2 separate regions of the Homo sapiens genome follow, and region 2 is linked to region 1. Evidence: fine-mapped expression QTL. A gene starts in region 1. The other region holds a variant in brackets. All regions are shown on one strand. Distances are from middle to middle. Region 1 holds the start of RELA-DT (RELA divergent transcript). Region 2 overlaps PCNX3 (pecanex 3).

What was found. PIP is the estimated chance that this variant, and not a neighbour inherited with it, causes the effect.
Region 2: its variant is the best candidate, but not a certain one, in a credible set for the expression of RELA-DT in whole blood (INTERVAL, PIP 0.57).

Annotation. Positions count from the first base shown.
Region 1 is chr11:65,661,365-65,664,116 of GRCh38, reverse strand. RELA-DT (RELA divergent transcript) reads right to left here and starts at 1,111. Exons shown (of 4, transcript NR_183625.1): 1 at 969-1,111. It overlaps RELA (RELA proto-oncogene, NF-kB subunit), which reads left to right and starts at 1,201. Exons shown (of 11, transcript NM_021975.4): 1 at 1,201-1,291; 2 at 1,912-1,938; 3 at 2,029-2,180; 4 at 2,282-2,430. The coding sequence starts at 1,285. RefSeq lists an enhancer at 695-894 and silencers at 985-1,394, 1,455-1,514.
Region 2 is chr11:65,632,468-65,635,471 of GRCh38, reverse strand. It overlaps PCNX3 (pecanex 3), which reads right to left. Exons shown (of 35, transcript NM_032223.4): 28 at 1,116-1,346; 29 at 831-934; 30 at 352-499; 31 at 24-254. Among named protein-coding and RNA genes, the nearest start is that of MIR4690, 2.3 kb to the left of the region's middle. The variant G/A (reference allele first, on the strand shown) is at 1,524.

The DNA of each region.
Region 1 (2,752 bases):
CTAATCAGGGCCAGCCACTGGAGAAACTGAAATGAGTGGGCGGGGTGCTAACTCTATTTTCACTTTTCTCTTCCTGTTTCTTCAGAGCCTGGGAAACAAGTCAGAATTTCCAATCTTTTCCAATTCCCACATGATTTCCTAATTTAAGACGAATTCAGAGAAAATAAAAAAGTCTTTCTCCATCTGGAGAAGACTCCGCCCCCTGCAGTGGAGCATCCTCCTTTGGGGATGAGGCCTGGGGTGGGGGTGCGTCAGCCCCAGCCTCCACACGGACGCGCCTTGGGCTTGGTCTTGGGGGAGCTACCTGCACTGTGGGGTCACATGACAGAATTAGTGGTCAGCCCTAGCTGGAGGTCCAGGGCAAACACAGGCGGGGGCAGGGGGGTGGGGGGTCGTGAGCCTGCTGATTCAAGTGTCCCTGTGGGTCCCGCACCTTCTGAGACACAAGCGCCAGGCTTCAGAGACGAGGCTCCGGGATTTACCCCTGGGGGCCTCCTGCTCCCACAGCCGATGAGAGCCGGCAGTTTGGCTGTATCGTAAGCTGGCGCTTTAGCTGGAGAGGGACGAGCCCTCGGCCAGCTCGCCAGCGGGAGGGCCTCAGTCGTCCCATCCGGGCTGTAGGCTCCGCAAAGCTCTTGATGCACTGTCAGGCTGGGAGGTCCGGCCGCTCCCATTCCCCCACAGCCGCATCTAGATTGGGGTGGGTAGGACATTTTAACGTGCTTCTGAGACAGCCACCACCGAAAGGCACCTTTAGCGGTTAGGAAACCCGCGCGGAGTTCAACCACCCGGCCTCTGCGGAGCAGAAGGCCCGGTCGGGCTTTTCCCTGCGCGGGGCGGGCGGCCGCAGCCCAGTAGCCCTGGCTTTGCTCCAGACCCGGCCCAGAGTGACATCACCAAACTCCGCCGATCGGCGGGAGGGGGCCCTGAAATCCCCTAAAAACAAAGTGAGTAATCGGCGGACCCACCCTCCAGGCGGGGCCGGGACCCGGGAGCTAGCCGAGCCACCGGGCACGCCAGCCTCTTCGTCCTCGGCGAGGCGCGCACTTGGCCCCGACCCCCGGCAGCGGCTGTGCGTGCAGCCTCTTCGTCCTCCGCGCGGCGTGCACTTGCTCCCGGCCCCTGCGCCGGGCGGCGGCGGGGCAGCGCGCAGGCGCGGCCGGATTCCGGGCAGTGACGCGACGGCGGGCCGCGCGGCGCATTTCCGCCTCTGGCGAATGGCTCGTCTGTAGTGCACGCCGCGGGCCCAGCTGCGACCCCGGCCCCGCCCCCGGGACCCCGGCCATGGACGGTGAGGTCGCCCTCTGACCCCGCGGGGTGGCATCGCCGGGGCCGCCGCGGCTGTGGCGGGAGCCCCCGCGCCGCTTTCCGCCCCTTCCTGCGCCGACGGGCGCTGCGCAGGGAGCGGTCGGCCTGCCGGATGGTGGCGCGGGGCGGGGCAGGCGGGGAGGGGTCTGACTCAGTTTCCCCTCTGGGTGGAGGGGGTGGCCCTTGACTCAGCATCCTCCCTGGGTGGGGGAGCAGAGGGAACCTTGACTCAGTTTCCCTCCACACCGTCCATGGGGGCAGCTCTGGCTTCGTTTCCCTATTAGGGGAGAACGCATCTGATTCAGTTTCCTCTCTGGAGGGAGGTGGGGCGTGCCCTCCCTCAATTTTCCTTAAGAAAGTACAACAGGCCCTGATTCAGCTTCCCTCTGGAGAAGAAGGATTCCTTACCCCGTTTTCCCTCAAGAAGCAGGTGTTTCTGGTTCCTTTCCTCCACCCCTTAGTTTCACCGCAGGTTCTAGGGAGCAGGTCCTGACTCAGTTCCCCTGGGAGGGAGCCTGGCTTCTCCTCTCCGTGGAGAGCAGATTCCTCCTTGTGAGAATGGGCATTGGGTGTGTGCTGACCCTGATCTCCCTCCCCTTTCAGAACTGTTCCCCCTCATCTTCCCGGCAGGTAAGTGGCCCCCGCGGCGGTCGGGGAGGTGCTCCCTGGGGTAGGGCAGTGGGGGCAGCCGCCTAATGGGGCTGCGGTGTCCCCTGGCAGAGCCAGCCCAGGCCTCTGGCCCCTATGTGGAGATCATTGAGCAGCCCAAGCAGCGGGGCATGCGCTTCCGCTACAAGTGCGAGGGGCGCTCCGCGGGCAGCATCCCAGGCGAGAGGAGCACAGATACCACCAAGACCCACCCCACCATCAAGGTCAGCACTGCGCCAGGGTGTGCGGGGAAGGGACTGTGGAACCCCAGCCCTCTGTGTTTGGGAGTCAGGTTTGGATGTCTGGGCCTCTGTACTTTGGACAGATCAATGGCTACACAGGACCAGGGACAGTGCGCATCTCCCTGGTCACCAAGGACCCTCCTCACCGGCCTCACCCCCACGAGCTTGTAGGAAAGGACTGCCGGGATGGCTTCTATGAGGCTGAGCTCTGCCCGGACCGCTGCATCCACAGGTGAGGTCCCTGCAGGCTAGGAGGCCCAGCATGAGGGGACAGGAGGCGGGCTATGAAGTAGCCGCTACAGTGTTACTCCTTTCTGGACCCAGGGCAGAATTCCTCACTCCTTGCCCTGACTCAGCTCTGCAAGTAAACTGCCTTTGTCTTGAAATTATCTATTTGTACGTTTACTCTAGCAGATGAGTTCCAGGGGATACGGATGGGTCCCTAATCACTTCTGAATTCCTGACCCCTGTAGCTGGAAGGACAAGTCCCTCAGAGTCACGTCTCTTGTTTGAGGAAGAAAACCATTGAACCAGCACTCTCCCCTGGAGTTGAC
Region 2 (3,004 bases), 29 kb after region 1:
AGGGCAGGTGGGGCCGGCCCAACCTTGATGACTCGGAAGCTGAGGTGGCGCCGGTTGAGCATGATGATCTTGTACTCGTCGGAGGCATCATCCAGGACATGGCGCAGCGCCAGCAGGGAGGGCGTGTTGCTGAGGATGGCGCTGCGCCATGCTGGGTCACCCTCATGTGAGATGACCAGCCGCTCCTCGTTGGCCGCAATGGCATCGTATAGGGCTGCTGGCTCCTCATATTCATCTGGGGACGTGAAGTGGTCCTGGTAGAGAAGACGGGAACAGGGGTCAGTGGCCCCTGCCCTGGAGAGAGGCTTCATCCCCCACCTGCCCATGCTGCTGGGCACACCCCTCCCCAACCTGGTGAAGCTTGAGGGCCATGCGAACCCCAGGCGCCACAACGCGGTGAAGCAGGTCCATGTCGGCAAAGACCCACTCGTCACGTGGGGAGGTGATGCGAAAATCCCCCTTGAACAGGGCGTGCAGGCCGTAGAGGAAGGGCTCCAGGCTAAGTGGGAGGAAAAACAGGGAGGGGAGAGAGGGGTGTCGAGGACCCAGGGGTAAGGCTTCAGAGTGATCCAAGCAGAGGCCTTTCCTCACGCTGAGCCTCAGTTTCCCCATCTTGACAAAGAGGCCAATCTCTGCCCATGTCTCTCACAGAGCACTGAGGAGCAGGCAAGGTCATGACCAGGAAGTGCCCTGCCCGTGGGAGAAGAGGTACCCCAACAGGAAGGGCCACTGCAGTTTCTGTGGCCACTGTGGCCAGAGACCACAGTGCTCTTCGTGGAAGAGGTGGGGTGGGGACGGCAGTAGGCCCCGCGGGACACCCGAGCACTCACCTTGCAGACATGCTGTGAGAGGCTGTCCCCAGGGCCCGGCGGCCCAGCACACACAGGCCAAAACACAGCGTGACCAGCGGGGAGTTCCAATCCTGGTCCACGGGCTGTGGCATAAGGACCCCCATCCCAGAGCCCAGCTCAGACCTGGGACAGGGACCTTGGAGTGGGGGCTGGGGCTCAGGCTAAGGGAGGCTCAGAGTGAGAGGAAACCAAATGGGGAGAAGGGGAGCAGGGAAGCCCAGGTCCCACAGCCCCAGGTGGCAGCCTCAGGTAGTGGAGCCTGACCTGGCTGCGCCGGGAGGCGCAGTACTGGATCCACTCGAGGTGCACAGCACAAAAGGAGGGCAGCGAGAGGCCAGACAGGCGGAGGTCATAGTCCTCATCCACACTCAGCGAGAAGGTGGGATCCGAGTCGGCATAGCCGGGCACCCGCACAGGCCTCAGGGCTGCCGTGATGCCCTCATGGCTGAGCCACACCTCCAGCTTTGGTGAGCGGCTCACGTAGTAGATGATGCTCTGGGAGAGGAGGGGCAGGCGTCAGGCCGGGGTCCCGGCCCTGGCCACTGGAGGAGAAAGCATGGAGGTTCAGAGGCTCCTCCCCAAGACTGAGCTGAAGTCCGCTTTCTGGGATGCCCCGCTCCTAGAGCCATCTCAGCTCTCAAGAGCAACCAAGCAAGTTGGCTCCTTCCCCTA[G/A]ACCAGGGAGGAGTGACAAAGCCGCCAGGAAGCACCCACTTACAGAGCAGGAAGTCCTGTGCTGGGGCTAGCACTCACAAGCAGCATCTGCCTGCCTCTGCCCTAGAATATGCCCCGTTTGTATGAGAAATTGAGGCTCAAACAAATGGCAGCCCCCAACGAGAACAAGATCATCACACTCAACATTTACCACCTCAGCTTCCAAGTCATCAAGGTGGAGCTGGCCCCACCTGCCCTGAACCCTGTCCCCCACCCGCCTCTGGCTGGCCCCGACACTATGGTGTGGCCCTCAGGTGAACCTTCAGTGCCTGTGCAGCACGTGGGCCAGGTAGCAGCAGGAGCTGGTGTTCCTGCACAAACATAACCCCGAGCGCGGGAGCATCCAGATGTCACATGGGCAGGGGGCGGGGAGCGAGTGGGGCAGAACAGACTGAACTGCCGCCTGAACCCCGGACCTTCCCCATCATGACATTGTGGGATCCAGATCTCGGGGCCGGAAGGGCAGGCTGAAGTAGTGGGCCTGCCTCAGAGTGCCTGGGTCACAGGTCCCTTTAGGCAGCTGAAGCATGACAGCCATCAGGCCTCGCCTCAGAAAAAAGCCACGGGCACATGTGGTACCCAAAGCTGGGGGCTCCTGGACCTCTTGTTAAAAGGCCCTGTTGGGCAAAAGTACAGGAGCTTTGGAAGACAGGTAGCTGGCATGGCCAGGATGCACGGGCGGGTTAAGGCCGGCAGGGCAGCCAGTGAGGTGATGGGGATTCCATGTGCCACCCTAAGATGGAGCTAATGGGGCAGGCCCTTTGCCAGGGCAGACCCGCTCCAGACTGACTTTCTTGCCCATAGCTCGCCTCTACAATCCAGGCACCACCAGAGCTGCTAAAAAGACCCAGAAAAGAAAAGCTTCAGCCAGACAGGGTGGCTCACACCTGTAATCCCAGAACTTCGGGAGGTGGAGGTGGGAGGATCGCTTGAACCCAGGAGTTCAAGACCAGCCTGGACAACATGGCGAAACCCCATCTCTACAAAAAATACAAAAATTAGCCAGGCATGGTGGTGCATGCCTGTAGTCCCAGCTACCTGGGAGGCTGAGGTAGGAGGATTACTTGAACCTGGGAGGTGGACACTGCAGTGAACCCAGATGGCACCACTGCACTCCAGCCTGGGTGACAGAATGAGACCTTGTTTCAAAAAAAAATAAAAAAAAGAAAAGCTTCAGGGACCGGGAGAGGAGCTGGCCTGGCACATATCAGGTGCTTGGTTAACCTTCACCAGTGCCATCCTTTTCTCTGACACAACACTCACGGTCATCTTAGGAAGAAAATGAAGACGGGGGGCAATACCAGCAGCCGCTCCGCCTGTGAGCGCTCACTGCGAGCTGGGCTCTGCCCAAGGTACTTCCCGGGAAGCACTGCCCAGACTCCGTGCAGCCTCAAGCCACGGTGCCTTTTCCTGCTCTTGTAGCCCTTCCCAGCTGCAGAAGC